Linked DNA regions of Homo sapiens. The protein of the gene in region 1 interacts with the protein of each later gene in a biochemical or structural test. Each region holds a gene or a part of one and is shown in the gene's direction. Other genes may lie near its edges.

What was found.
Region 2: the proteins of TOP1 (region 1) and ELK3 interact in a test that uses a peptide from one of them, tested with the Homo sapiens proteins (one study listed by BioGRID).
Region 3: the proteins of TOP1 (region 1) and BTBD2 form a complex in vitro, tested with the Homo sapiens proteins (one study listed by BioGRID).
Region 4: of the proteins of TOP1 (region 1) and SRPK2, one has a biochemical effect on the other in vitro, tested with the Homo sapiens proteins (one large-scale study listed by BioGRID).
Region 5: the proteins of TOP1 (region 1) and RBL1 interact in a test that uses a peptide from one of them, tested with the Homo sapiens proteins (one study listed by BioGRID).
Region 6: the proteins of TOP1 (region 1) and APAF1 interact in a test that uses a peptide from one of them, tested with the Homo sapiens proteins (one study listed by BioGRID).
Region 7: the proteins of TOP1 (region 1) and PARP1 form a complex in vitro, tested with the Homo sapiens proteins (one study listed by BioGRID).

What each region holds. Positions count from the first base shown.
Region 1 is NC_000020.11:41,119,322-41,122,821, forward strand, and holds part of TOP1 (DNA topoisomerase 1), read left to right. Parts: intron 1-2,374; coding exon 2,375-2,469; intron 2,470-2,684; coding exon 2,685-2,834; intron 2,835-3,500. UniProt on the Homo sapiens protein: Releases the supercoiling and torsional tension of DNA introduced during the DNA replication and transcription by transiently cleaving and rejoining one strand of the DNA duplex.
Region 2 is NC_000012.12:96,246,375-96,249,874, forward strand, and holds part of ELK3 (ETS domain-containing protein Elk-3), read left to right. Parts: intron 1-565; coding exon 566-1,360; intron 1,361-3,500. UniProt on the Homo sapiens protein: May be a negative regulator of transcription, but can activate transcription when coexpressed with Ras, Src or Mos. Forms a ternary complex with the serum response factor and the ETS and SRF motifs of the Fos serum response element.
Region 3 is NC_000019.10:2,005,715-2,009,214, reverse strand, and holds part of BTBD2 (BTB/POZ domain-containing protein 2), read left to right. Parts: intron 1-3,500.
Region 4 is NC_000007.14:105,378,922-105,382,421, reverse strand, and holds part of SRPK2 (SRSF protein kinase 2), read left to right. Parts: intron 1-3,500. UniProt on the Homo sapiens protein: Serine/arginine-rich protein-specific kinase which specifically phosphorylates its substrates at serine residues located in regions rich in arginine/serine dipeptides, known as RS domains and is involved in the phosphorylation of SR splicing factors and the regulation of splicing.
Region 5 is NC_000020.11:36,998,924-37,001,997, reverse strand, and holds part of RBL1 (retinoblastoma-like protein 1), read left to right. Parts: intron 1-3,068; coding exon 3,069-3,074. UniProt on the Homo sapiens protein: Key regulator of entry into cell division. Directly involved in heterochromatin formation by maintaining overall chromatin structure and, in particular, that of constitutive heterochromatin by stabilizing histone methylation.
Region 6 is NC_000012.12:98,676,290-98,679,789, forward strand, and holds part of APAF1 (apoptotic protease-activating factor 1), read left to right. Parts: intron 1-1,135; coding exon 1,136-1,262; intron 1,263-3,500. UniProt on the Homo sapiens protein: Oligomeric Apaf-1 mediates the cytochrome c-dependent autocatalytic activation of pro-caspase-9 (Apaf-3), leading to the activation of caspase-3 and apoptosis. This activation requires ATP. Isoform 6 is less effective in inducing apoptosis.
Region 7 is NC_000001.11:226,366,594-226,370,093, reverse strand, and holds part of PARP1 (poly [ADP-ribose] polymerase 1), read left to right. Parts: intron 1-1,772; coding exon 1,773-1,895; intron 1,896-2,485; coding exon 2,486-2,614; intron 2,615-3,500. UniProt on the Homo sapiens protein: Poly-ADP-ribosyltransferase that mediates poly-ADP-ribosylation of proteins and plays a key role in DNA repair.

The sequences.
Region 1 (3,500 bases):
TTTCAGCTAGAAGCTGGGTGCAGTGGCTCACACCTGTAATCTCAGCATTTTGGGAGGTTGAGGTGGGAGAATCACTTGAGCTGAGTAATTCAAGACCAACCTGGGCAACATAGTGAGACCCTGTCTGTATTAAAAATTTAAAAATAAATATAAATAAGTTCCAAAAAGAGGTTATTGAAATTATAGATTTTTTCTCATCCAAGTTCATGGAATTCTATACTTGTACAACTGGAGTTTAAGAACTACTACTGTGGAATGAGACTGCATTTTAAGGCCCAGAATATTTTCCATTTGTTGAGATTTCCTTAAGATAAGTACCCATGAGTAATATAGCTGGTTCAAAAGGTACACACAACTTATAATTTATGCTACAGATGCCATCTGGCTTTCTTGAAGAGACGTACATGTCCACAGTGAATGAGTATACATCCATAGACCTTTGATTCCTTGGATCATATGATTGGCAGGCAAAGAACTCTATAGACGGCCCATCCTAGCAGCTCACATTTGCTGCCACTCTGTTAAATGCTGGTCATCTGGAATTGTTTATTCTCCTCATGTTATCATTACAAGCCAGAAATAAAAGCATGAATATTCAGGTGCTGTTTACCTAATTCAGGAAAACCCCTCCCAGGAGCATGAGGAGGTCTTTTGTTGCTCTCGCTCTGGAACCGGGTTTGGGCAGCCCAGGCTGCCTGCCAGATGAGCCCTCCAAACCCAGGATTCCTCTCCTGTGTGCCCACAAAGCAAACACACGCCCCTGTTTGCCAAGTGAATCAATGGAGTCTTTGATGCTTTGAGAGAATTTGACATAGCCTGCCAATTTAGCATTCACAGAAATGGTTAAAAGATCATGGTTTGCTACATTTCTATCCTAAAAAGAATCTGGCTAGTGGTGTCTGTGATGCTTTTGTATATAGAATCAGTCCCCTCAGTTTGGCTTTGGACAACATAGATGTTGGAAGTAAGCCATTCATAGTAAAACATATTTAGTGATCCTCTCACAATGGTGGCCTCTGTTTCCAATCTTGGGCTGTGTGTATCTAACAACAAACAATTCCAGGTTCAGTGAGCAGCCCAGTGTGTGTCAGACATGTTATTTACTCCGTAGAGGTTGTCTTCACCTCACATAGATGACCATAGGTATGGGGTTCTCCTGCCCTCTGAGTAGCGTGAGCTCAGTGACAGGGGCTCTAGCTCCATGTTGTTATCCACTGCTGTCTCTAAGCAGGAATCTGAGAAGAACTTAGATTCACCAGGGGTGCTTCAAAGATTCTAACAAGCAAGAAAGGCTGAAACTGCCCTTGTCTCTTCCCTTATAGATATGGATTCCATGAGAGTTCACATGGGGAAAAAAGCTCCACAGCTAAAAGTGTTTTCACATCCATTGAGTGACAACTAAGGTCCTTCCCACCTCAGACTTCTCTCCTTTTTTTTTGAGACGGAGTCTCGCTCTGTTGCCCAGGCTGGAGTGCAGGGGCATGATCTCGGCTCACTGCAAGCTCTGCCTCCCGGGTTCATGCCATTCTACTGCCTCAGCCTCCCGAGTAGCTGGGACTACAGGCACCCACCACCACGCCTGGCTAATTTTTTGTATTTTTAGTAGAGACGGGGTTTCACCGTGTTAGCCAGGATGGTCTTGATCTCCTGACCTTGTGATCCGCCCTCCTCAGCCTCCCCAAAGTGCTGGGATTACAGGCGTGAGACACCGCGCCTGGTGACCGCTCTCCTTTTAAAAACAGAATGCCAAAGCTAAGCCCTGCCATGTCCTGGTTTGGGACAGACTGGCTGAGCTGTTTGGCTTCCTGGGTGTCTTTTAATTGCCAGTTTGTAGCCCCTTGAGTACTCTCTTCAGTGCATCCATTTTCCTTGAGAAGCTGGCACCGCCTTCCCAGAGTACTGGTGGGATCTGAGGAACGAGCTGGGGTTGCCCAGTAGATGCAAGTATCCTGCTTCAGTTTCCTAAAGAGGAGCTCCTACAGTGTTCTTAGAATGAAAGCTAAGAACTGGCACAGGATCTATTTGATAAACAGCTGTCATTTGTAGCCATCCTCCCAGATGTATGACAGCAGAGTGTTCTCTGATGGAAAGATCAGCACCCAGATTCCCAGCCCCAGCGGGTTCCTTTCCCTGAGCCCCTAGGTTACTGCCCTGTAAAACCCTTGTTTCTTTCCAGATCACTGAAGAACAAATAGTTGAATTCACTAGTCCTTGTGCATCTTCTCCCTGCCTTCATGAAGCCACCCTTGTTTTTTTTTATCTGACAAACCACTGACAGAGACAGCCTGGTCCAGATAACATCTTGGTTTCACCTTCTCAGGTGGAGCCATTTTTCCTCTACAGCTCATAACCTTACCACTATTATTTCCCCTAGATTGATGCCAAGAAGGAACAGCTAGCAGATGCCCGGAGAGACCTGAAAAGTGCTAAGGCTGATGCCAAGGTCATGAAGGATGCAAAGACGAAGAAGTATGTACCTGGTATTGTGAAAGTTGGGGCTGGTAGAGAAAAGTGTGCAGCATCTGTCAGGGCCCCTGGGGCCCTGGCTTTTCGATGGTTTCTGAGAAATGTCTTTTGGAAATCTCTATACTAGGGCTTTTATTGACTCAAAGTGGCAGGATGGGTACAGTGTGCTCTTGTCTAGAGCCCAGGCCTGGTTCTTGAGGACTTTGCTATTCTTCTAGGGTAGTAGAGTCAAAGAAGAAGGCTGTTCAGAGACTGGAGGAACAGTTGATGAAGCTGGAAGTTCAAGCCACAGACCGAGAGGAAAATAAACAGATTGCCCTGGGAACCTCCAAACTCAATTATCTGGACCCTAGGATCACAGTGGCTTGGTAAGTGTTGAGCCCTCCTTGAGCTCCTGCTGCTAGCTTAAGAAAGGTGGAGGGGGTTCCGAGAGCACTGGTGGCCTTCACATGCCATTCCTAAGCTACACACTTTAGTCCTCTGGGGAAACTTCTGGCTTCAGCTGTGTACAAGTTACTCTGGTTGCTGAACCTTGTCTGTAAATGCATTGCAACATTCTGGTTGCTCCTAAATGGTCAGTGCTGTTACACTGCCTTGTAGTGTATATTTTTAAGAGGCAGGTGCCATCCCTATTCCTAATGGAACTTTAGGACAGGAATGGAAACTCTTAGCTTCTGGAAGAATAGGAAAGAGCCCATCCATCTCTACACTTCAACAAAACTTTTCGTTGAATTTTTTTGCAGTTGAAGGTAGGAACAAGAGATAAAGATGAGAATACAGATCTGAGCAACTTACACAGAGAGGCAGAGGGACCTTTAACAAAAGCAGATAAATACTAGGTTTCTCTGTGTGTCACACACAGTGTCACATAACATCTGAAACAAGTGGCTTTGTTATGGAAGATGTTTAGTTTGAGCTGTTAAGTTCTGAGCATAGGTGGAGATATCCTCCCCTATGGCACTTGCTAGTCCGGGCTAAAGTTTCCATCTAGGTCTTTTGTACCTCTTTCTGCTCGTTTTGCCTTGTTTGGTGCT
Region 2 (3,500 bases), on another chromosome or scaffold:
TGGCAGCTGTTACTATGTTATTACATAGAATAATCCTCACTCGGCCAAGGTTGGGGGATTGCTTGAGTCCAGGAGTTTGAGACCAGCCTGAGCAACCAAGTGAGATGCTGTCTCCACAAAAAATAAAAATGTAAAAATTAGCAGGGTGTGGTGGCATGTACCTGTAGTCCCAGCCACTCAGGAGGTGGAGGCAGGAGGATTGCTTGAGTCCAGGAGGTTGAGGCTGCAGTGAGCCATGTTCGTGCCACTGCACTCCAGCCTGTGCGACAGAGTGAGACCCTGTCTAAGAAATCATCATCATCATCATCATCTTCCTTACTTTACAGACGAGGAAACTCAAAGTGGCACTTAATTTGCCAAAGATCACAAAGATCTAGTAATGGCAGAACTGGAATGCACATCTAATTCTACTTCCAACTTCATTCCTCCTTCCACTTTTCCTTAGCCAAGAATGTAAATCAGGAACATTTTGGTGCTTCTGCCAGCGACATTTACCATTATCATGAGCTCTTACATGGTTTCTCGGGTGCACTCAGATTTTCAACGTCTACTTTTGTATTTGCAGAACATCATCAAGAAGGTGATCGGGCAGAAGTTTGTGTACAAGTTTGTCTCTTTCCCGGAGATCCTGAAGATGGATCCTCACGCGGTGGAGATCAGCCGGGAGAGCCTTCTGCTGCAGGACAGCGACTGCAAGGCGTCTCCGGAGGGCCGCGAGGCCCACAAACACGGCCTGGCCGCCCTCAGAAGCACGAGCCGCAACGAATACATCCACTCAGGCCTGTACTCGTCCTTCACCATTAATTCCCTGCAGAACCCACCAGACGCCTTCAAGGCCATCAAGACGGAGAAGCTGGAGGAGCCGCCCGAAGACAGCCCCCCCGTGGAAGAAGTCAGGACTGTGATCAGGTTTGTGACCAATAAAACCGACAAGCACGTCACCAGGCCGGTGGTGTCCCTGCCTTCCACGTCAGAGGCTGCGGCGGCGTCCGCCTTCCTGGCCTCGTCCGTCTCGGCCAAGATCTCCTCTTTAATGTTGCCAAACGCTGCCAGTATTTCATCCGCCTCACCCTTCTCATCTCGGTCCCCGTCCCTGTCCCCCAACTCACCCCTCCCTTCTGAACACAGAAGCCTCTTCCTGGAGGCCGCCTGCCATGACTCCGATTCCCTGGAGCCCTTGAACCTGTCATCGGGCTCCAAGACCAAGTCTCCATCTCTTCCCCCAAAGGCCAAAAAACCCAAAGGCTTGGAAATCTCAGCGCCCCCGCTGGTGCTCTCCGGCACCGACATCGGCTCCATCGCCCTCAACAGCCCAGCCCTCCCCTCGGGATCCCTCACCCCAGCCTTCTTCACCGCACAGGTAAGAGTCATTCCTGTCATCTAAGCCACAGCCAGCTTCAGTGGCTTAGCAAAAAAGGAAGAGCAACTAAAGAGACTTCCTTCTGTCCCTCAAAACGTTGTCCTATGACTCGTACCGAGGTCACTGTGTAAATGTGAAGGGAAGCTGCTTTTCCATCCTCAGACCAAGGGGTGCACATGAGACAGGGTTTGGTTTGTCGACTCTAGTGGGATGCTTGATTGGTTTCTTGCTTTTAGCGGCCTAAAGTGACCATAGGTGGAACACGCACACTGGCCGACAAAGCAGATCTCACCAGCGATTTCCAAGGGAAAGTTGAGCGGGCCAGTTTACATTTCGGGAGGCGCTTGGGCTTTATGAAATTTTTATGGCAGAATCTTCTCTGGGGGCGCTTAATAAGGAGCCACTTGTGTTCTGTTAACAAGAAAATAGATGTCAACTGATGCCGCCATCGCATGTCAGTGTGGAGCTGTGGTCATAGCGTAGGTAATAAGAAACAAAGGGGCCACCCCAAACAGCTGCTTCGCTGAAAGCAGCACTACTCTGAGAAAGCCCCAGTCCACAGCACTGGCGAGAGGACAGCAAACTTGCAGAGCCAAAAAAGCCTTCGTTGTTATTAGTCCCAAAGAGAAAGCAGCCTTTTCCTTTAAATCAGATATTCAGATGCTCTTTCTTGTCCAGCTGACAATTGCAGTGCAAAGGCGTAGTAGGTGCTGGGAAACCATATTTCTCCTTCCCCTTGAAAATTGGATGCAATTTTAGTGGCAGAGGTTAAAAGAGTATTCGTTTTAGGTTCACAGACCTGCATTCAGTTCCTGGCTACCCTGCTTCCTAGGAGTGGGACTGTGGGCGGTTGCTCTCTGGGCCAGGTTCCATGTGTGGAAAATGGGACCATGGACAGGCTTTGTGAGCTGGGGACACCTGGTAGCATTGTTAACCGTGGAGCTGCACCCGTCCCCTGCCTCTGTAATCTCATCGTAGTTGTCCCTGTTGTCATTAGCAGCAGCCGCGGCAGCATATGACGGGCTCCCCACGTGTGCCAGGCACTGCTCCAGATGCTTTACATGCATTGCCTGTATCCACACTTACAGCAGCCCTGTCACGTGGATACAGGTTGAGCATCCTGTTTCCAAAATGCTTGTGACCAGAAGCATTTCAGAGTTCAGATGTTTTCAGATTTTGGAATATTTGCATGATACTTGCCAGTTGAATATCCCACATCTGAAAATCTGAAATCCAAAATGTTGCAATGAGCATTTCCTTGGAGTGTCATGTCAGGACTCAGAAAGTTTCAGATTCTGGAGGATTTGGGATTTGGGAATTTTTGGATTTGGGATGCTGAGCCTGTGCTATTATTATCATCCTGTTTCCCAGCTGAGATAAATGAGGCACAGAGGTAAAGTAGTTCGTCCAGGGTCCCACAGCCAATAGGTGGTAGAGGTGGCTTTGGATCCAGTGTCTGCCTCCAGAATCCATGCTCTCAAATGAAATGCATTCCCGCTGCGAGAAGGCAGTGTCCCTGATCACGATGGCCGTCCATGGAGCACCTGAAAGCAGCTCTGGGCCACTGTCCTCTCCACGCTTTCTCTGGACTGGATTCTGCCCAGGATTTCATGACAGCTCAAGCCTGTGAGCTGGTGGTGACGCGCGCCACTGCGGAGGGGGAGGGCCAGGGGATCAGGATATAGGTCAGAGTGAGCACGTGTGCTCTTAAATCAGGCATCTTCCAGTTAAGCAAGGCTGTCCAGTGACCAAGGGCTGCTGAGCAAATGGCTCAGAAACAGCAGCTCCTGATGTAGCTCAGGGGAGTATCTTGAGAGGCAGGGCCAGGGTAGATGATCTGAGCATCTCCTCCCCTGGCCTCCTGTGTGTTTACAACTGTCAGGGTGAGAAAGGTCCGAAGCCAGGCCAGGGCTGACTCTGATTTAGGTGTCTGTGTTCCCTGGGAGCCTGGATCACCTTCTCAGAACAGAGTGAGGCAGATGCCAGCCCTGTCTCAGAGGAAGTCAGCTCAGCCAGCCCTGTGGATAATGTGGATGGAGTGGTGGCTCCCATCGGTGGGGCTGAGGGCGTGAGAGAAGGATCAAGGGTGGATGCCCAACAAATGGATGCAGAGGGCACGACCAGGAGCCAGAAGCCACCA
Region 3 (3,500 bases), on another chromosome or scaffold:
AAAAGAAGAAAAAAGAAAAACCACAAAAATTAGCCGGGCGTGGTGGCGAGCGCCTGTAACCCCAGCTACTGGGGAGGCTGAGGCAGGATAATCGTTTGAACCTGGGAGGCGGAGGTTGCAGTGAGCCAGGATTGTGCCACTGCACTTCAGCCTGGGTGACAAAGCGAGACTCTGTCTTGGAAAAAAAAAAAAAAGAACAGTGTGTTCTGGGGTCTCACATTTCATTGACTGCTTTGTGAGTCCTTGTTCCCATAACACATTGTTTGATGATTGCTGCTTTGTGGTATGTTTTGAGAACTGCTCACCAAATTCTTCCCAACTTTATTCTTTGTGAAGACTTTTCAGGCTGAGTGCAGTGGCTCACATCTGTAATCCCAGCACTTTGGGAGGCTGAGGTGGGAGGATCACTTGACCCCAGGAGTTCGAGACCAGTCTGGCCAATATAGCGAGACCTCATTACTTGGACATGGTGGTGTGTGCCTGTGGTCCCTGCTACTCAGGAGGCTCGGGTAGGAGGATCACCTGAGCCTGGGAGGTTGCCGCTGCAGTGAGCCATGATCCTACCACTGCACTCCATCCTGGGCGATAGAGTGAGACTCTGTCCCTAAAAAAAAAAAAAAAAAAAGCTGGGCACAGTGGCTCACGCCTGTAATCCCAGCATTTTGGGAGGCCAAGGCGGGCAGATCACCTGAGGTCAGGAGTTCGAGATCAACTTGGCCAACATAGTGAAACTCTGTCTGTATTAAAAATACAAAAAGTACCCAGGCATGGTGGCTTGCACCTGCTGCTTGAGAGGCTGAGGCAGGAGAACCGCTTAAACCTGGGTGGCAGAGGTTGTGGTGATCTGAGATCGCACGACTGGGCTCCAGCTTGGGCAACACAGCGAGACTCCACCTAGAAAAAAAAAAAAAGAGTGGGCGCAGTGGCTCACCCCTGTAATCCCAGCACTTTGGGAGGCTGAGGCAGGCGGATCACCTGAGGTCAGGAGTTTGAGAGCAGCCTGGCAAACATAGTGAAACCTTGTCTCTACTAAAAATACAAAATTAGCCAGGCGTGGTGGCAGGTGCCTGTAATCCCAGCTACTCGGGAGGTTGAGGCAGGAGAATTGCTTGAACCTGGGAGGTGGAGGTTGCAGTGAGCTGAGATCGTGCTGCTGCACTCCAGCCTGGGCAAAAAGAGTAAAATTCTGTCTCAAAAAAAAAAAAAGACTTTCTCAGCTGGTCTGACACATTTATTACTCTTCTAGAATCAGTCACCCACATCCACCCATCTGTCCACCCTACAGATACTCACTGAAATACAGTCCTGGCTACAGGAGGTGCATATGACAGAAAAACATCTCCTTCCTTATGGAACTTATATTCTGTGTTTTGTTTTATTATTTTTTGAGACAGAGTCTCGCTCTGTTGCCCAGGCTGAAGTGCAGTGGCATGATCTTGGCTCGCTGCAAAGCTCTGCCTCCTGGGTTCCCGGCAGTTCTCTTGCCTCAGCCTCCCGAGTGGCTGGGATTACAGGTGTGCACCACCACACCCGGCTAATTTTTGTATTTTTAGAGACGGGGTTTCGCCATTTTGGCCGGGCTGGTCTCAAACTCCTGACCTCAGGCTATCCCCGGCCTCCCAAAGTACTGGGATTACAGGTGTGAGCTACCGTCCCTGGCCTAAGGCGGGAAGATCTTTTGAAGCCAAGAGTTTGGTACCAGTGTGGGCAACATAGTGAGACCTTGACTGTGTGTAAAACAAAACCAAAACAGATAAAAGACACAGGTGCCAGCAAATTCATGTGAAGGGTCAGATAGTAAATATTTTTGGCAGGCCATACTGTCTCAGTTGCAGCTACTTAATTCTGCCGTAGCAGCACAAAAAGCCATAAATCAACAACATGTAACTGAGCAAGAAGAGCTGTGTTCTAATAAAACTTTATTGGCCAGGTGCAGTGGATTACACCTGTAATCCTGGCACTTTCGGAGGCCGAGGCAGGAGTATCACCTCAGGTCAGGAGTTCAAGACCAGCCTGGCCAACATGGTGATACTCCGTCTCTACTAAAAATACAAAAAGTGGCTGGGCGCAGTGGCTCACGCCTGTAATCCCAGCACTTTGGGAGGCCGAGGCAGGTGGATCATGAGGTCAGGAGTTCAAGACCAGCCTGGCCAAGATGGTGAAACCCCATCTCTACTAAATATACAAAAATTAGCCGGGCGTGGTGGCGAGCGCCTGTAATCCCAGCTGCTTGGGAGGCTGAGGCAGGAGAATTGCTTGAACCTGGGCAGCAGAGGTTGCAGCGAGCCGAGATCGCGTCACTGCACTCCAGCCTGGGCGATAGAGTGAGACCGTCTCAAAAAAATAAAAAATAAAAAAATTAGCTGGGCATGGTGGTGAGCACCTGTAATCCCAGCTACGTAGGAGGCTGAGGCAGGAGAATCGCTTGAATCTGGGAGGAGGAGGTTGCAGTGAGCTGAGGTAGTGCCAGTGCAGGCCAGCCTGGTCAACAAGAGTGAAACTCCGTCTCAGAAAAAAAAAAAACTTAATTTACAAAAACAAGTGGTGGGCCAGATTCACTCTAAGGGCCATAGTTTGCCAGCCCTGGGCTAACGGTGCCTGATGATCTTGAGAATCAGTTTGTCAAGTGATAAAGGAATTTACTGAGGAGATTGGTCTTTCTAAGGACATAAAGTTGGGTGATTTTTCTTTTCTTTTTTTTTTTTTTTGAGACGGAGTCTCGCTCTGTCGCCCAGGCTGGAGTGCAGTGGCACAGTGTCAGCTCACTGCAAGCTCCGCTTCCTGGGTTCAAGTGATTCTCCTGCCTCAGCCTCCCGAGTAGCTGGCATGTTTACTTTTATCTGGTTTGAACTGTTTCTTCCTGAAGCCTTATTAGGTTTAACAGTTTTTCTGTGGTCTTGTGCTCTGCAGTAGAGTATCCTGTAGTAAGCGGGATGGTTTGGATGTGTGCTGTCCAATACTAGGCACTCATGTGCCAGTACGGACTACAGATGTGGACAGTGTGACCGAGGAGTTGAATGTTGAATTCAGCTGAATTTGGATATAGATTTAAATAGCCATGTGTGTCTAGTATTGACCCCTTGGACTCTTAGACTTTTTAAAAATTAAATTTTTTTTTTTTTTTTTAGAGACAGGGTCTCACTCTGTCACCCACACTGGAGTTCAGTGGCTCGATCATAGCTCACTGCAGCCTCCAGCTTCTGGGCTCAAACAGTCCTCCCACCTTAGCCTCCCAAGTAGCTGGGACTATAGACATGCACCACTATGCTCGGCTGATTTTTTTCTGTTTAGTAGAGATGGGGTCTGCTGTGTTGCTCAGGCTGGTCTTGAACTTGTGGGTTCAGGTGATCCTCCCAACTTGGCCTCCCAAAGCACTGGGATTACAGGTGTGAGCCACTGCTTTGGCTAAAAAATAATTTTTTTTTTTTTTTTTGAGACGGAGTTTTGCTCTTGTTCCCAGGCTGGAGCGCGATGGTGTGATCTTGGTTCACTGCAACCTC
Region 4 (3,500 bases), on another chromosome or scaffold:
TGCCACCATGCCAGGCTAATTTTGTATTTTAAGTAGAGACGGGGTTTCTCCACTTTGGTCAGGCTGGTCTCGAGCTCCTGACCTCAGGTGATCCACCCGCCTTGGCATCCCAAAGTGCTGGGATTATAGGCATGAGCCACCGTGCCTGGCTGTGCTTTCCTTTTTATTGGTAACAAGTATTCCATTGTGTGGATTAACAGTTTATTCACAGGCTAAAGGATATCTGGGTATACTTTGCTTCTACTTTTTTTTTTGAGATGGCATCTTGCTCTGTCGCCCAGGCTGGAGTGCACTGGCGCAATCATGGCTCACTGCACCTGCCACCTCCCAGGTTCAAGCGATTCTCCTGGCTCAGCCTCCCAAGTAGCTGGGACTACAGGCATGTGCCACCACGCCTGGCTAATTTTTGTATTTTTAGTAGAGATGGGGTTTCACCATCTTGGTCAGGCTGGTTACGAACTCCTGGCCTCAAATGATCTGCCTGCCTTAGCCTCCCAAAGTGTTGGGATTACAGGCGTGAGCCACCGTGCCCAGCTTGGTGAGACAGTTTTGGAATGTAATGATACAAGTTTATATCCTTATTCAGTAAGCCTCAACCCTTGAATTTATACTTCCCTGTAGTATAAATTCAAGCTCATAAGCCCATGACTTTGGAATACTTCTCATGGATTACCTAATTTTCATTTCTTATTTTTTTACACATTTGTTTATTCAACAAACATTTTTGCTTACTACCTCTACAGTAGAATACAGTAAATGGACACGAAGCAAATACCTAGTGCTGCAGATAGCTAGTGCCAGGGTGTGTGTTGGATGCTAGAAGAGTAAGATAATTAAAGTAGAAGAGATTGCTTTGTGAAAAGACCATTGCAGGACAGTGTGATGAGAACTGTAAGATTTAGGTACAGTAGTGCTTAGTTTTTTTGTTTTTGTTTTGTTTTGTTTTGTTTTTTCGAGATGGAGTCTTGCTCTGTTGCCCAGGCTGGACTGCAGTGGCCTGGTCTTGGCTCACTGAGACAGGGTTTCGCCATATTGGCCAGGCTGGTCTCAAGCTCCTGACGTCATGATCTACCTGCCTTGGCCTCACAAAGCGTTGGGATTACAGGCTTGAGCCACTGCGCCTGGCCAGATTTCATTTTAATATTGTCATTTTAATGAAATAACTTTTTTTTTTTTTCTTGAGGCAGTCTTGCTCTGTCACCCAGACAGGAATGCAGTGGCATGATCTTGGCTCAGTGTAACCTCTGCCTCCTGGGTTCAGGCGCTCCTCATGCCTCAGCCTCCCAAGTAGCTGGGATTACAGGCATGCGCCACCATGCCCAGCTTATTTTCTTTGTATTTTTAGTAGAGCCTGGTCAGGAACTCCTGGCCTAAGCCTCAAGTGATCTGCCTGCCTCAGCCTTCCAAAATGCTGGGATTACAGTCATGAGCTACTGCCCCTGGCCCAGCTTTTTTTTTTTTTTTTTTTTTTTTTAAAGTAATAAAAGTAATATGGTCATGGTAAAAAATTCAGTACAGAATTCAGTATAATACAGAAGATTTAAGAAGCAAGTGTCAGCTGTGGCTCCACTAATTATTTTTAATTTAAAAATTTTTTAGCAGCTGGGCGTGGTAGCTTACGCCTGTAATCCCAGCGCTTTGGGAGGCCGAGGTGGGCAGATCACAAGGTCAGGAGATCAAGACCATCCTGACCAACATGGCGAAACCCCGTCTCTTCTAAAAATACAAAAATTAGCCAGGCGTGGTGGCATGTGCCTATAATCCCAGCTATGCAGGAGGGTGAGGCGGGAGAATTGCTTGAACCCGGGAGGCAGAGCTTGCAGTGAGCTGAGATGGCGCCACTGCACTCCAGCCTGGGCGACAGAGCGAGACTCCATCTCAAAAAAAAAAAAAAAAAAAATTTTAGCATGTTAATTTAGGGTATCTAATTGTTTTGGTGTGTTATTCTTTTACTTGTGCATGGTTTTGTTCATTTTTCAAAAATTGAGTCCTAGCATACATGTATATGCATGTATGTAAAGTGCATTGATCTTTTAAAGATCAGTGAGGATCACTAGAGGTCAGGAGTTTGAGACCAGCCTGGCCAACATGATGAAACCCCGTCTCTACTAAAAATACAGAAATTAGCTGGGAGTGGTGGCACATGCCTGTAGTCCCAGCTATTCCAGAGTCCGAGGTGGGAGAATTGCTTGAACACGGGAGATAGAGGTTGCTTTGAGCTGAGATTGCACCACTTAGTGCCAGCCTGGGCGACGCAGTGAAACTCCCTCTTAAGGATAAAACATCATTTTTAATTTTAATTTTCTTTTTTAGAGATAGGATCTTGCTTTGTTGCCTAGGCCGCTTTCACCCTCTTGGGTTTGGGTGATACCCCACCTAAGCCTCCCAAGTAGCTGGGACTGCAGGTGCCTACCACCATGCCTGGCAGTGCACTCATATTTTTTTGAGACGGAGTCTTGCTCTTTCGCTAGGCTGGTGTGCAGTGGCGCTATCTCAGCTCACTGCAACCTCCGCTTCCCCGATTCAAGCCATTCTCCTGCCTCAGCCTCCTGAGTAGCTGGGAGTACAGGCTCGTGCCACCACTCCCCAGCTAATTTTTGTATTTTTAGTAGAGACGAGGTTTCACCATGTTGGCCGGGCTGGTCTCGATCTCCTGACCTTGTGATCTGCCCGCCTCGGCTTCCCAAAGTGCTGGGATTACAGGCGTGAGCCACCACGCCTGGCCCAGTGCATTCGTCTTAATTGTACAGTTTGATGATTTTTTTTACATTTATTTATACCCCTGTAACGACCATGTAGATCAGTATATAAAACCCCTTCAATGCTCCATAAGTTTTCTCATGCCTCTCCCGAGTCTATACTCTACCACCTAGGAGCAACAACTTTTTTGATATCTATCATTATTGATTAGTTTTGTCTGTTCTTGAATTTCATATAAATGAAATCATATAGAATATACAGTCATCCCTCAGTACGCTTGGAGGATTGGTTCTGGGACACCCTCAAATAACAAAGTCTGAGGATACTCAAGTCCCTTGTAACCTTCACACATCCTCCTGTATATTTTAAATTATCTCTGGATTACTAATAATATATATACAATGTAAATACCATGTCAATGGTTGTTACATGGTGTTTTTTTAATTTGTAGTTTTTATTTTGTTATTATTTATTTACTTTTGATTGTTTTTGATTCATGATTGGTTGAACCTATGGATGCAGAGTCCACAGTTTCAGAGGGCTGACTTTATATATATATATATATTTTTTTTTAGAGACTGGGTCTTGCTTTGTTGGCTGACAGTGGCACAATCATAGCTCACTGCCACCTCAAATTCCTGGCCTCAAATGATCCTCCTGCCTCAGGCTGCTGAGTAGCTGGGACTACATGTGAGCACCACCATGCCCAGCTGATTTTAAAATTTTTTGTAGAGATGGGATCTCCCTATGTTGCCCAGGCTCAAAGATGTAGTTTTGATTGAACTACTTTACTCTCCCAC
Region 5 (3,074 bases), 4.1 Mb from region 1:
AGAGCTACTGTTATACAGTAAATTCAGTTGTTTTGGTTTGGATTGGTTTGGTTTGTTTTTTTTTTTTTTTTTTTTTTTTATTGTTCTGCAACCTGCTATTTTAATTCAACTCTACCTCATGGACATCTTTTCACAGATTTAGACTCTTAGTTCACAGGGTAGGAAAGCACAAAGGCCATAGGACTCTTGCATAATGGGAAGCTTATTTTTCTTTTTTTTTTTTTTTCCATTTTTTTTCTTTTTTATTGATCATTCTTGGGTGTTTCTCGCAGAGGGGGATTTGGCAGGGTCACAGGACAATAGTGGAGGGAAGGTCAGCAGATAAGTGAACAAAGGTCTCTGGTTTTCCTAGGCAGAGGACCCTGCAGCCTTCCGCAGTGTTTGTGTCCCTGGGTACTTGAGATTAGGGAGTGGTGATGACTCTTAACGAGCATGCTGCCTTCAAGCATCTGTTTAACAAAGCACATCTTGCACCACCCTTAATCCATTCAACCCTGAGTGGACATAGCACATGTTTCAGAGAGCACAGGGTTGGGGGTAAGGTCACAGATCAACAGGATCCCAAGGCAGAAGAATTTTTCTTAGTACAGAACAAAATGAAAAGTCTCCCATGTCTACCTCTTTCTACACAGACATGGCAACCATCCGATTTCTCAATCTTTTCCCCACCTTTCCCCCCTTTCTATTCCACAAAACCGCCATTGTCATCATGGCCGGTTCTCAATGAGCTGTTGAGTACACCTCCCAGACGGGGTGGTGGCCGGGCAGAGGGGCTCCTCACTTCCCAGTAGGGGCGGCCGGGCAGGGGCGGCCGGGCAGAGGCGCCCCTCACCTCCCGGACGGGGCGGCTGGCCGGGCGGGGGGCTGACCCCCCCGCCTCCCTCCGGGACAGGGCGACTGGCCAGGCGGGGGGCTGACCTCCCCGCCTCCCTCCCGGATGGGGCGGCTGGCCGGGTGGGGGGCTGACCCCCCCCACCTCCCTCCCGGATGGGGCGGCTGGCCAGGCAGAGGGGCTCCTCTCTTCCCAGTAGGGGCGGCCGGGCAGAGGCGCCCCTCACCTCCCGGATGGGGCGGCTGGCCGGGCGGGGGGCTGACCCCCCCACCTCCCTCCTGGACGGGGCGGCTGGCCGGGCAGAGGGGCTCCTCACGTCCCAGTAGGGGCGGCCAGGCAGAGGCGCCCCTCACCTCCCGGACGGGGCGGCTGGCCGGGCGGGGGGCTGACCCCCCCGCCTCCCTCCTGGACGGGGCGGCTGGCCGGGCGGGGGGCTGACCTCCCCGCCTCCCTCCCGGACGGGGCGGCTGGCCGGGCAGAGGGGCTCCTCTCTTCCCAGTAGGGGCGGCCGGGCAGAGGCGCCCCTCACCTCCCGGATGTGGCGGCTGGCCGGGCCCGGGGCTGACCCCCCCACATCCTTCCTGGACGGGGCGGCTGGCCGGGCAGAGGGGCTCCTCACTTCCCAGTAGGGGCGGCCGGGCAGAGGCGCCCCTCACCTCCCGGACGGGGCGGCTGGCCGGGCGGGGGGGCTGACCCCCCCCACCTCCCTCCCGGACGGGCAGCTGGCTGGGCAGAGGGATGACCCCCCCACCTCCCTCCTGGATGGGGCGGCTGGCCGGGCGGGGGGCTAACCCCCCCACCTCCCTTCTGGACGGGGCGGCTGGCCGGGTGGGGGGCTGACCCCCACCTCCCTCCCAGACGGGGTGGCTGCCAGGCGAAGACGCTCCTCACTTCCCAGACGGAGTGGCTGCCGGGCGGAGGGGCTCCTCACTTCTCAGAGGGTGTGGCTGCTGGGCGGAGGGGCTCCTCACTTCTCAGACGGGGCGGTTGCCAGGCAGAGGGTCTCCTCACTTCTCAGACGGGGCGGCCGGGCAGAGACGCTCCTCACATCCCAGACGGGGCAGCAGGGCAGAGGCGCTCCCCACATTGCAGAAGATGGGCGGCCTGGCAGAGACGCTCCTCACTTCCTAGATGGGATGGCGGCCGGGCAGAGACACTCCTCACTTTCCAGACTGGGCAGCCAGGCAGAGAGGCTCCTCACATCCCAGACGATGGGCGGCCAGGCAGAGACGCTCCTCACTTCCCAGACGGGGTGGCGGCCGGGCAGAGTCTGCAATCTCGGCACTTTGCGGGGCCAAGGCAGGCAGCTGGGAAGTGGAGGTTGTAGCGAGCCGAGATCACGCCACTGCACTCCAGCCTGGGCACCATTGAGCACTGAGTAAACGCGACTCCGTCTGCCATCCCGGCACCTCGGGAGGCCGAGGCTGGCGGATCACTCGCGGTTAGGAGCTGGAGACCGGCCCGGCCAACACAGCGAAACCCCATCTCCACCAAAAAAATACGAAAACCAGTCAGGCGTGGCGGCGCGTGCCTGCAATCGCAGGCACTCGGCAGGCTGAGGCAGGAGAATCAGGCAGGGAGGTTGCAGTGAGCCGAGATGGCAGCAGTACAGTCCAGCTTTGGCTCGGCATCAGGGGGAGACCGTGGAAAGAGAGGGAGAGGGAGACCGTGGGGAGAGGGAGAGGGAGAGGAGGGAGAGGGAGAGGAGGGAGGGAGAGGAGGGAGAGGGAGAGGAGGGAGACGGGAAGCTTATTTTTCTATTCTTGGTTTGGTTTTTGAGACAAGGTCTCACTCTGTTTCCCAGGCATGATCACTGCTCACTGCAGCTTCAACCTCCCCAGGCTCAGGTGATGCTCCTTAACCTCCCGAGTAGCTGAGACTACAGGCACAAGCCACCACACCTGGCTAATTTTTGTATTTTTTGTAGAGACCAGGTTTGCCATGTTGCCCAGGCTGGTCTGAAACTCCTGGGCTCAAGTGATTGAACCATCTTGGCCTCCCAAAGTGCTGGTATTACAGGCCACCACACCTGGCCTTAAATCTAATTTTTAAACCACCTGAAAAGATTAGTTCAAGCCATCCCTTATTAGGTTGTTCTAAGTTTTAAAAAGAGTCCTTATCCCAGTGTTAAGATTTGGATAGAGGATAGAGCACAGGAAAAAACAATTAGCTTGGTTGTTTGCTGCCATTTCCCCTCTCCCTCTTTTACTCACACACGTTCTCTATTTCTGCACAGAGTTTG
Region 6 (3,500 bases), on another chromosome or scaffold:
ACCTCCACCTCCAGGGTTCAAGCGATTCTCATGCCTCAGCCTCCCGAGTAGCTAGGATTACAGGTGTGTGCCACCATGCCTGCTAATTTTTGTATTTTTAGTAGAGATGGGGTTTCACCATGTTGGCCAAGCTCATCTCGAACTCCTGACCTCAAGTGATCTGCCCGCCTCGTCCTCCCAAAGTCCTGGGATTACAGGTGTGAACCACCATGCCTGGCCCCTTTATACTTTAGATACTATGAGCAGTAATATAATATCTATACTGGTGGAATAGTTGATATTCATTAGATTGAGATACAAAGAATATGATGTTGCTTTATCTTTTTGGTATGTCTGAATAATTGTAGTTTGAGAGAAGCAGTTTTTTTTTTTTTTGAAATGGAGTCTTGCTCTGTCGCCCAGGCTGGAGTGCAGTGGCGCGATCTTGGCTCACTGCAACCTCCATCTCCCAGGTTCAAGCGATTCTCCTGCCTCAGCCTCCCAAGTAGCTGGGATTACAGGCACGTGCCACCACACCCAGCTAATTTTTATCTTTAGTAGAGACGGTGTTTCGCCATGTTGGCCAGGCTGGTCTTGAACTCCTGACCTCAGGTGATCCACCCACCTTGGCCTCCCAAAGTGCTAGGATTACAGGCATGAGCCACTGCGCCTGGCTGAGAAGAGCAGCTTTAAAGTACATCATAATAATGGTGGGTGTTTCCTTCAGTTAGGAAATGAGCATTTTGCTATGATTTTTATTTTAAAAAAGAGATGGAGAATTTTTGAAGGTATCCTTATATAATGATTTATCTGCACATGTATCATTATTAATGTATCAAAGGAAAATGGAAAGTGACATGTTGATTAACTAGATTTGATTAATTTGATTAATTAGATTTCTTCCAACTCAGTGACATTTGTAACACGTGACAGGTTGCTTGATAAAGGGTAACATTTCTCTTACAAATGCTACTTTTGTTATTTTTTTTCTTTTGGTGATCTGTGCTGTCATTTGCATGTTAGTAATCTGATTTTAAGAATTTTGTATTTTGGGGAACATAACCATGTTAAAAGACAGTTTATTTTAGTACTGAAAGAAAATAGTTACTTTTACTCTCATTTATTTAATTTCTGTTCATTTTTTCCCTGTATTTAGAAACAAAAAAAACATCACGAATCTTTCCCGCTTAGTTGTCCGCCCCCACACAGATGCTGTTTACCATGCCTGCTTTTCTGAGGATGGTCAGAGAATAGCTTCTTGTGGAGCTGATAAAACCTTACAGGTAAAACACATCTCTTGAGAAAAATGCAAAGAGGCATGTATCCAGTTTTGTGCAGATCAGAATATGTTTAAATCCTAAAATTCAAGAAAATTGCAACTTAGAAATAACAGAGGAATCCAGCTCTCTTGAACATTTTATTAAAGGTTTCTCTAGAGATTTAAAAGATACAGTTACATGTTTTCCTAATTCTAAACTTACAGGTGGTAAGGAAGTGCCCTTTACCCTGCCAGTCAGTTCCCAGCCATCCATTTGTCAGCTAAGGGTAGTGAGGAAATAATTGTTAGAAGACGTAGGGCTTCATAGCACAGGGAATAGGGCTGTGATTAAAAAACAGTGATTAGGAAAATACCTATTTTATCAAAGTCTTAGGCATAGGTTTTTTTCTTGTAAATAGGAACTGGACTAGACTATTTCCTAAGTTGTTTTAAAGAATTTCCTTTAAGATTCCCTTTGTTTTCAGAAAATATTAATGAGTACTTTTCTTTATGTTTGTGTTCTGCCTTTTGATTTTGCAGAGAACATGATGAAATTAGTTAAAACTTGTATTTAGGATACTTTTAGTCTTTGCAAGATTATGACTCCATAGCTTATGTCTATATGTGTACTTTATTACTAATTTTATTAATCTTGGCTTTTGAGTTCCAGAGAGAATGCATATTAAATGAAATGTTTTATTTGATTGTTAAGAATTTGCCAAAATAGTCTCAAGAGCTGAAGCTGTGCTCTGACACTTCTTTTTGATGGCAGCGGCGGGCTGCCTGGAGTGGCTGCTGCCATCATGCTGGCTGCAGCAGGGAGGCGCAGCTGGGGCTGCATGCTCTGTGGAGCTGGCGGTAGCTGGGGACAAGCAGGAACCCTACCCCTTCTGAATTGGGGCAGGAGCTCCTGGTTCCTGCTGTAGCCGCCCAAGCCACAGCTGTGGACCTGGGAACCCGCTCCATGGAGCAGGCCAGAGCCCTGCCCTCCTGGGTGTAGCTGTAGCCGCCCAAACCACAGCTGCAGGCTCGGGCCTCCGGCTCCACAGAGCAGGCAGGACCCCTTCCCCCTGGTGCAGCTGTAGCTGCCCAAGCGGTGGCTGCAGACTCAGGCATCCCTGTACTCTTGGGGGACCTGGAAGGACCCCCTGCCCTTGTAGGCTTGGAAGTGCCTGCTCCCGCTGCCTGACTTCTCCCTACTGTTGGCACCCACTCTGATCTTAGAGCAAAGCTGGGGCTGAGCCTGGGTGCTGTTGCAGCCCGGCCAGATGTGCACATGCTTGGGGCAGTGCTGACATGCCAGCCCCCTGCCGCCTCGGCCCCCTCCGGACTTTGGGTGCTGATGAGCATAGGAGGGAAGCCAAGGGGGTGCTGAGGGCAGTTTGATACTGGCCTGCAGGCTCCCCTTGGCACCTACAGCCTGGGTGCCATTCATGGCAGCAGGAGGCAGACAGGTTCCTGGGTGGAAGGGGGCGGGTCACCAATGAGGCCCCACCTTCAGGCCACAAAGGGCCTGAAGACTGGGGGCTGGGCTGCTGGTGTGGACTGAATGGACTGGAGTGGGAACTTATAGTGCCTTTTCCAGGCTTGCCCATGTCTGCCCATGGACCAGTTGGCATGTACTTCCTCCCTTCTGAAGCCCATAAAAGCCTCGGGCTTAGCCAGTGCTGAGCAGACACTGGGACAACCAGCTGCAGAGAGGAGCAACCCACTCTAGTGCCCCCTCTTTGCTGAGAGCTGTGCAGATGACAGGAGGACCAGCTGCAGAGAGGAGCTACCCTCTCTGCTGATAGCTGAACACTTGTCAGGAGGACTTGCCTAGCAGAGAGGAGCTACCCTCTCCTGAGCTGTGGAAAGGAGCTGCCCCCCGCAGGTTTATTGAGCTATTTTATCGCTCAATAAAGCTCCTGTTTGTCTTGCTCACCTTCCACCTGTCAGCGTACCACATTCTTCCTGGTTGTAGGACAAGAACTTGGGATCCCACTGAATGGTGAGGCTAAAAGAGCTGTAACACAAACAGGGCTGAGACATGCCCCTTGCTTGCCGCATTGCAAGTGAAGATAAGTAAAGAAAAGCTGCGGCCCTTCGGGGAGCCCAGACTTGGGAGCTCCCCAAGCTAGGGCTGTGACTCCCTCTTTGGGGCCCCGCGGTTCCTGGCATCTCCAAGCTTCTGGGCACCACCGTGTTCCCCGGTGCCAGCGTGTAAGCTGCTTGTGGTGTGCCTGGTCCAGCCACAGCCTCACAGAGAGCCAGAGCCCATGCT
Region 7 (3,500 bases), on another chromosome or scaffold:
AATTCACTCATGCTCAAGTCCTAGAGTGCCCTGCAGAACCCATGGAGGAGAAAAGTTGGCCCTGCACATCTGTGGGTCTCGCATCCTGAGATTTTTTTTTTTTTTTTTTGGTGGGATTTTTCTTTCTTTTTCTTTTTTGAGACAGAGTCTTGCTCTGTCCCCCAGGCTGGAGTGCAGTGTCACAATCTCAGCTCACTGCAACCTCCATCCCCAGGTTCAAGCGGTTCTCGTGCCTCAGACTCCCAAGTAGCTGGGGTTGCAAGCATGGGCCACCACACCCGGCTAATTTTTTTGTATTTTTAGTAGAGGTGGGGTTTCACTATGTTGGCCAGACTGGTCTCAAACTCCTGGGTTCAAGTGATCCGCCTGCCTCAGCCTCCCAAAGTGCTGGGATTACAGGCATGAGCCACCACACCTGGCCTGAGAATACTATATTTTTTATCTGAGTTTGGTTGAATTCTCAACTGCAGAGCCCACAGGTGTAGAGAGCTAACTGTATTTATTGAAAACATCTGTGTATAAGTGGACCCGCATACTTCAAATCGATTGTTCAAGGGTCACCTGTGTTGTGGTTTTTATTTTATGTGTCCTTAAGAGTTAGGCAGAGTTTATTTTGCAGTTACTAGGAAGTCATCAAATGGAAGCCTCTTTCATTCATGTTATTTCAACATTCTTTGAGCATCTTTCAAGGTCTACCAGTCCCGGAGCCTTCCAGCTACATCCTGGAGGGGCTGGAGGGTTCCGCTTATATTTGTGGGTGGGTGCAGGCCTGGCCTGTAGAAAGAAGGAAAGCACACAGGAAGCAGAAGTGGGCCCAGGCAGCGGGCTTTCTGGCTGGTGCTGGAGAAAAGGCGCTGAACCGGATCTGTCAACTTCAGTTACAGCTGGCTCTGAGCAGTGAACCTCTCTCCTTGTTCCTTACTGACTGAGAACTTACAAGGCTTTCCTCGGCCCCAGCTTCTTCCCATGCAATAGTCTTCAGGAAGAAGAGCTGGAATAGCATCCTTACCCATTGCCAGAGCCACCTGGGCAGCACAGATGGAAGTTGTACAACTTGGTGAAGTCCATGTCACAGCGAGAAGCAGGCGTGGGGCTTCGGACCTGCTGGGTGCCACTTCATATTCCCTTGACCTTCCTGTGGTCACCTAGGCTGTCTGCGAAATTCCTGGAATCCCAGTGGCCCCGCTCTTCCATCTCTGTGCATTTTTTGTGCACCCTTTGCATATAGAGCACCAAGTGACACTGGCAGTGAGTGTAAGGATTGCTTAGCCTTTCTGTGCCTGGCCACCTCAACCTCCAGGTACAGTAAAAACTAATTCCAATGAAGGTCAGTGGAGGCAGGGAGCCTGACTGAATTTTATAGCGATGGGCAACCTCCTCCCAACATTTTATTATGAAAATGTTTCAAACATACAAAAAGTTGAAGGAATTTTACAGCAATAGTCATTAGCCCACCACCTAGATTTTACAGTTAACATTTTGCATAGTTGTGGCGGGGTTTCAAATGTCTGTAACTGCACAGTTCTTTGTACAAATGAAACTTCATGGGAGAAGCCCATCACGTGTTGAGCAGTGCTTTTAGAGGATGGGGGTCCTGCCCTGCTCTTTAACAGGAAGATGGTCTTCTGGTCGTTTCCCATGTGTCCTGGCATGTGCACATACCACGCTACTTCTGGACCTGCTGCAGCACCCACCTGCTAAAAGAGAAAGCCTGGCCGGGGGCTTGGAGCTGCTCCCTCAGTCTTGCATTCCTTCTGTCCCCTCCTCTCCAGGCGGTGTCTCAGGGCAGCAGCGACTCTCAGATCCTGGATCTCTCAAATCGCTTTTACACCCTGATCCCCCACGACTTTGGGATGAAGAAGCCTCCGCTCCTGAACAATGCAGACAGTGTGCAGGTAGCGCAAGGGTTCAGAAGGGACTGCAGGTCTGCTGGGCTGGGGTGTGACTACCTTGCAGCCGTCCCTCCCCATCATGATCCCTGAGGGCAGCACCAATGCTGGGAGGGCCACCCTCTTGCCCTTGTTTTGAAGTTGGGTTTCTACCCACATTGATGGAGGCAGAGCTGTTTTTCCTGCCCCTGTTCTACCAAATCCACTGGGGAAAGAGCTGTTGGAGAGGGACAGCCTCTCCCTCATAACAGCATCTTCCTCCCCATTTTCCCTCCCTGCCTTTTAAGACAGCTCCTGGCTCAGGACCCATTTGTCTAAAGTACCTTCACTGTAGGTCCCAAATGTCAGCATGTACGAGAGGAAAGACAGTTCTTCCACCTCTCAACTCCCCCAGGCCACAAGGCCTTGTTAACATTCCAGAAAGTCCTTATGAGCTCTCAATATGTGCAGCAGGTAACAGGCTGGCCCTGACCAGCAGGAGGGTTTGCCATTCACTGTGTTGGACCTTCTCTGCATGTAGGTTTTCTCTGCCACCTGGGTGAGTCTGTCTCATTCACCATGATACCTAAGTCGGGGGCTTTCTTTTGCTCCTCCAGGCCAAGGTGGAAATGCTTGACAACCTGCTGGACATCGAGGTGGCCTACAGTCTGCTCAGGGGAGGGTCTGATGATAGCAGCAAGGATCCCATCGATGTCAACTATGAGAAGCTCAAAACTGACATTAAGGTAACAGGGTCAGGCCTTCCTCAAGCATCTTAACCTCTCATCCTGAGAGCAGCGGTCCCAAACTTCCATGTGTGTTAGGATCTCCTGGAAAGCTTGTTAAAACACAGGTGGCTGGCGCCCAATAATTCACTTTTCTAACAAGTTCCCGGACATTGCTGCTGGTGGTCCTTTGAGAACCTTTGGGCGTTTCACGTGTAGATAATGCACCTTGTTTGCAAGGCAGCCTTCCAAGCCAGCACCTCAGCTTGGCGTACAAATTTATTTTTGAGGGTCTTACCAAAAGTTCTTTTTTGTTTGTTTGTTTGTTTGTTTCCTCTCCTTAATCTAGAGAGGAGCTCTGTTTTTCTAAACCCTTGTAGCGTGAACTTTTAGAAGACTTATTACCGGTGTCCATTTCAGAAGTGGAAATGCTTGATGGCACCTGTAATAAAAACACAATGCTTGCGTTCATTTTTCTCTGGTGCTGAAGTGGACTGTGTTGGCACACACAGTCTCTGAACACCCCGCTTAGACCAACTAGAGGAGGGATTTTTGCCTCAGCTTCTAGATGGCCCGGTCCTTGAGCCTATCTCCACACTCATGTGCCCCATTGTCCTCAGCCCATTCCCTGCAGTGTTGCAGGGGTTTGGGTGGGCGAGAGTATGTTGAGTCTGGTACCAGGTGTTTACATCGCTAAAGAAAGAGCCTTGGCTTCTTTCCTAGGACAAAGTATAGACCTATGGGTCCAAGCAGGGTAAGACACCACATGTCATTTGTTTTGCCCCTAGAGCACCTTCCTGATGGGAAAACTGTAGGTGTGGTTCTTCGTGAAGGGATTCTTATTCTCTTTTTACAATTCTGAAGCCTTTTAATTAAAAGACAGGGAGGTAGACCAGCATTCTAGGTT